Linked DNA regions of Homo sapiens: region 2 is linked to region 1. The links come from fine-mapping of genetic effects on gene expression. Tissue or cell type: caudate. Region 1 holds a variant in brackets; the other region holds the start of a gene. All regions are shown on one strand. Distances are between the middles of the regions.

Evidence for each region. PIP is the estimated chance that this variant, and not a neighbour inherited with it, causes the effect.
Region 2: GRIK4 starts here. The variant in region 1 is fine-mapped to the expression of GRIK4 in caudate (GTEx, PIP 0.97).

The regions. Positions count from the first base shown.
Region 1 is chr11:120,813,269-120,815,768 of GRCh38, forward strand. GRIK4 (glutamate ionotropic receptor kainate type subunit 4) reads left to right here. Exons shown (of 21, transcript NM_014619.5): 5 at 2,110-2,207. LOC105369532 (a long non-coding RNA gene) reads right to left here. Exons shown (of 3, transcript NR_133008.1): 2 at 2,064-2,191. Among named protein-coding and RNA genes, the nearest start is that of TBCEL, 210 kb to the right of the region's middle. The variant G/A (reference allele first, on the strand shown) is at 1,556.
Region 2 is chr11:120,510,499-120,513,237 of GRCh38, forward strand. GRIK4 (glutamate ionotropic receptor kainate type subunit 4) reads left to right here and starts at 1,250. Exons shown (of 21, transcript NM_014619.5): 1 at 1,250-1,389. RefSeq lists silencers at 861-940, 1,121-1,320.

The DNA.
Region 1 (2,500 bases):
GAGCGGAGGCACTTCACGTCTCTGGGGTGCTGTGTCCTTACCAGTAAAATCAGGAGATAAGACCCCACTCCCCCAAGGCAGTTGTAGGGATCTGAGGGGATGATGAACTTCAAGCACCTAGTGGGCTGTAAGAGTTAAGTTGGCTGAGGTCACATGAGATAACCCCCATGGAAGTAGCTTGGAATTTGAAGAGACTCTTCAAAGATGAAGCCTGATCATCACTACTTTGGCCAGACACTTAGTACTGATGAGTCCTCCAGTCAGCTGAGATTTTGGGATGTTGTGGGATGCCTGCCCAAGCCATAGGCTAAGAGAAGACTCCAAGATCTATAGTTCATATGGTAAATTGCAATGCTGGGATTTGAACCCTGGTGTTCTGCCTTGCTGCCTGTACCCCGTTCAGATGATCACCTGGCTGTATTGGACTCTAACCCAGAAGAAAGAGCGTCCATGTGGCAGGTGTGGCTTTACAGCTGGCTCAGTAAGAAACCTTGTACTAGTCCCTTAACCTCAATTGCTAGGCCAGGGAAATTGCTCTGCCTGACTCCTAATACAAGTAGGAAGAAAATACATATGGAGTTAAGCCTTGAGTTTTGCAGACAAGGATGCAGTGGGGAACCTCGATTGCATTTTCTGAGGGACGGCCCCTTGGCTCTGATACCACAGTGTGTGCACGGAGAATTCTTTCCTGTCCTCTCTCACTGTGTTTCCCTCTTTCTCCCATCCTTCCTTTCTCAGTCTCTAGCATTTTAAAATCTTAGATTCTCTCCCCCTCCTCTGATTACACATCCCATTCCTTTAGACATTCACACAGCAAATCTGAGCTGGGCTCCTACTCTCTAGAATGCATTGTGCTGGACACTGAAGAGATGAGAAGTGGGGATTGGGAGATAAATGTGGCTCAGTTCCTGTCTTCAAGAGGTTTGAAATCTAGTGAGAGGAGAGCACTAAACAACAAACCCAAATAGATACAGTGTCTTAGACTAGAGGTATGAACCCCAGGCCTTGGGAGCCCAAGGCAGTGTTAATTCCATCTAAAGGAGCCCAGTGGTGGGGTGCGGTGGCTCATGCCTGTAATCCCAGCACTTCGGGAGGCCAAGGCAGGTGGATCACTTGAGGTCAGGAGTTCAAGACCAGCCTGGCCAACATGGTGAAACCCCGTCGCTACTAAAAATACAAAAATTAGCCAGGCGTGGTGGTGGGTGCCTGTAATCCCAGTTACTCCTGAGGCAGGAGAATTGCTTGAACCTGGGAGGCGGAGGTTGCAGTGAGCCGAGATCGCACCACACCACTGCACTCCAACCTGGGTGACAGGGTGCGACTCCATCTCAATAAATAAATACATAAATAAGCCCAGGAAGGTCTAAGGAGAAGGTGGTGTCAGAACTGATCCCGGACAGGTGAGCGAGTGTTCAGTCCAGGAGGGAAAGGCCAGATGCCAGGCATGCTGGTCGGTCAGGACGGGACCTGCTCTACCTGGGGGAGGGAACATGCCAGGCTTCAGGACGAAGTGAACGACGGGGGCATTGACAGATGAAACTTCTTTCTGCCTCTC[G/A]CTTTCTCCCTGCCTCCCATTTTCTTTCCCTTTTTCTTGCCTCCGCTCCTTTTGACTTTAGCCACCCCTGCTCTCTTCCTGTCTGCGTCATCCTCGCCCTCCTTCATACCCCCGCCTGCCTGCCTGCCTTCCTTCTCCCAGACTCTCTTTATATTTGGGGGGACTAATGCAGCAGCTGTGCTGGGGCTCCCCCTACCCCCCTGCAGGCCAGGCCAGGCCGTGGGATGGAATCTGCAGGTTTGTTCCATTAGCCTCTGTCCTTCTGTGACAGTCCAGACAATTTATACACCCTGTTGGCTATGGCCGTATGTTGTCATAACCTGGGTCATTTCCTCATTTAATGCTGCCCATAAACTCCAATAAAACTGTCCTGGAGCCCAGTCGTCCAGGGGAGAAGGAGAGACTCTGGGTTTCGAAGGGTTGGAGCAGGGGCCTGGGCAGCGGGTGTGCAGAAGGTGAGGGGGCAGCGGGTGAAGAGGAGAGGACTGGGCCATGGCGCAAGCCCGACCTGATGAGTGCTTTGCTTCTTTCCCTGTCCCTGCCGCTGGCTGCAGTGTGTCAGATCCTCCCCAAGGGGGTGGTCGCTGTCCTCGGACCATCGTCCAGCCCAGCCTCCAGCTCCATCATCAGCAACATCTGTGGAGAGAAGGAGGTGAGTGTGAGGCAGGGCTGGGGAATATCTGTGTGCTGGAGCCTGTGCCCAGGGTCCAAAGATAGGGTTGATTCTCAAGGGCTGGAAGAGCCTGTCAAGGCTGGGTTGGTATCATTAATAACAACAACATAAATACAAATACAGAAGCAGTGGGCTTGCCCTGCTCCAGGATGTTTGCATGGAGGGGTCTCGGAGGAGGTGTTTGACAGCAGGAATCTGAAGCGGAGCTCCTCCCTGTCTTAGGGTCCCATGGCGGTGCCCCCAGCGGCCTCTTGGTGGTGGTGGGTAGAGGG
Region 2 (2,739 bases), 300 kb before region 1:
GGAGCTGGGGGAGGGATAGGCACGACTCCTGAAGCAGGAGGCCCAGTACGCGCCCAGGCTAGCCAGCCAGCCCTCCCCGGGGAATGCAACGTCCAGAACAGTCTATAGTCCCGATAGTATGCCTCATGCGTGAGACCTGACCAAGGACGTCTGTGAACAAACCCTTCACAGAGAGCTTAATGAGATTGTGGGAGTGCTGGTGGTTGGGTGTGGGGATACAGGCCATTGAAGGTGAGAGGGCCGGTGTGATCAGTTTGGTGGTCTGCCCAAGACAGAGACTCTGCGGGTTGGATAAGAGGGAGCTAATAGGTTTGAGGGGGTCACGTGTCCCTTGCCCTCCCTCCTATTCCCCCAGGACTCCCTCTTCACCCAGCCTCCTCCTAAGGGCAACTCTGTTGTATTAGGATGAACCACACGGTGTACTGAAATGAACCGCGCGTCAGAAAGCGGGGTTGCCTCCTGGGTCCTGCCACTTGCTCCCCGTGTGTTCTTGGCCTGGTCCCTTCACCTCTCCTAGCCTCAGGATCTTCATGCGTAACATGAGATCCTCCCAAGATGTTGGTATGTATACAACAGTGCTCTGGAATGACTCCATGCAAGCTGTTGCTCTTCAGTCTCCTGAACAAGGTGCTCTTGTCTCGTCCCATGAAACCTCCACCTCTCCATCTTCCGCACCACTGAGGCCGCAGTCTCTTCTAACGGGGCACGCTCGTCCCCCGCGCTGTTTCCCGAATGCCACCAGGGGGCGCCCCTTGCTCGCTGAAGCCGCCGGGCTAATAACTCCTCGGGGCCGGGGCGGGCTGCCCCTTTGCGCAGGGCGGTGGAGTGTGCGGGCTGCGCCGGGTTCCCCACCTGAGGTCCGTACCTCGCAGAGCCCGCTTGGCCGCGCGCCCCTAGCCTCTGCCGGGCGCCGCTCCCCAGCCGGGCGCCTCTCGCTCGGCCCCGGGCCCCCGGGCAGCCGCAAGTTTGCCCCCGGCCGCGCGGACCCGCGCCCGCCCTGCCCGCAGCAGCCCCCGCCGTTCCCGCCGCCCCCGCCGCCCCCGCGCCTGGGCTCCCGGGCGACGCTCCGAGGGGCGCTGGGGGGCGCGTGCAGCTGCCCGCGGGGCTCCGGCCCGGCCCCGAAGGGGCGCCCCCCCGGCCGGCCGTGCGCGGGGCCGCAGCAGTTCCCCAGCTGCCCGCCGGGCGGCGCCCCGCGCCTCGCTGCGCTCCTCCCGCGCTCCCCGCGCCGGGCTCGCTCGCAGCCGGACACAGACTGCCTTCAGCTGCGGGCGGATCGGGCTGGAGCCGCCACGGCTGCTGCGGAAGAGGAAAAACGGCCAACAGCAGCCCCGCGGCCGGCCCGGCAGCGCCCGGCCCCCGGCTCAGCCCCCGGAGTGCGGAGCCGACCAGGTAAGGGCAGCGGCCCCCCGCGGCGCCCCCGGCCCGCTCCCTGCGCTGCCCCCGCGCCCCCGAGTCCCCTCCGCGCTGGCCCTTCCCGCACCCCGACTTCTGACGTCTCCGCCGCTCCTGCCCTCGGGGGCCGCGGCCCCGCACCCCTGCCCCGGCCCCCGCCCCCGCGCCCTCCTCCCCGCTCCCGCCTCCCGCCAGCCCGGTCCCTGGCACTTCGGTCCCTGCGTCTCCAGATTCGCCGCCGAACCCCCCACCGCTCTGCTCCCGTAGTTCCTCCAGTCTTCACCCCGGTCCGTCTCCCTCCCTCCGCATCCCTTCCCCGGGCTCGCGGTCCTCCCGCTCTGGTCCTCCCCCTCCCCGTGCAACTCCCAGCCCTGCCTCTGTCCCCTGCAGGGATGACAGCCCCTTCCCAGCCTGGCGCGTCTCCCCTACACCTCGTCACCCTCCGCTTCTCCCAGCGCCTCTGTTCCCCGGCTGCAGCCCCCCATCCCGGCTCAGCCTGGCATCCCACCAAGCCCCCTCCCCCTTTCCTCACTGCCATCTGCCTCGACTGCCCCCTGCCCCTGCACTGGACTCGGGCCACCACCACACCCCCCCACCCTGCACACCGCCTTGCTTGGGGGAACCAGCGTCCTATCAGAAATGATCCTCTTTCCCGGGGAGAATGGGGCTCCCACCCATCCCACCCTAGTTCATCCGAGTGGGAAGTGAGGGAGAAACTCTAGAGACCTGCAATGGGCGCGTGATGGGGGAGGGGGCTGGGGCGGAGGGGGAGGGGAGCTGATTTAGATTCTCTTCAGTGAGGACTGGCAGAGCTGTGCGCTCCGACCTGGCTGGGGTGGAGGGCGTGCAGGCGACAGCTGGGACAGGGGGTTCAAGGCACTGAGAGCACCTGTGTCTCTTTCCCTGGCTCCCTTGAGCTGAGCAAAGTGAGGGGAGGAGTTGGAGCCTGGGGAGAGTTGGCTGAGGGCCTTGGGGTGGTGGAGGAGGCGGCCGAGGGGGCTGGGCCCCGGGCGCCTCTGGCCCGTCTGCCTGGCAGTGGTGGGGCAATGCGGGCCGAGCCACTCCCGGGCTGGACCTTGGGCTGCGTGGCTCTTGGCATCTGTACTTGATGCTGCCATCTTCCTCTTGGTGCTGTTGTCTGGTGATGCCACGCGGTGCCACCTCCCTGCCTCCCTCCAGTGGCTCTCCTGGGCATGTCTCCCAAGGGTCTGGGTTGTCTGGGAAGAGGAGGGGAGCTCTGAGCACAGCTGGGCCCTTTTGCCAGGCAGTGGGCAGCTGTCAAGACCAGGCCAAGAGGTCTGAGGGCTGGTCAGGAGGACTGAGCCCTGCCAGGAACAAAGAACTACC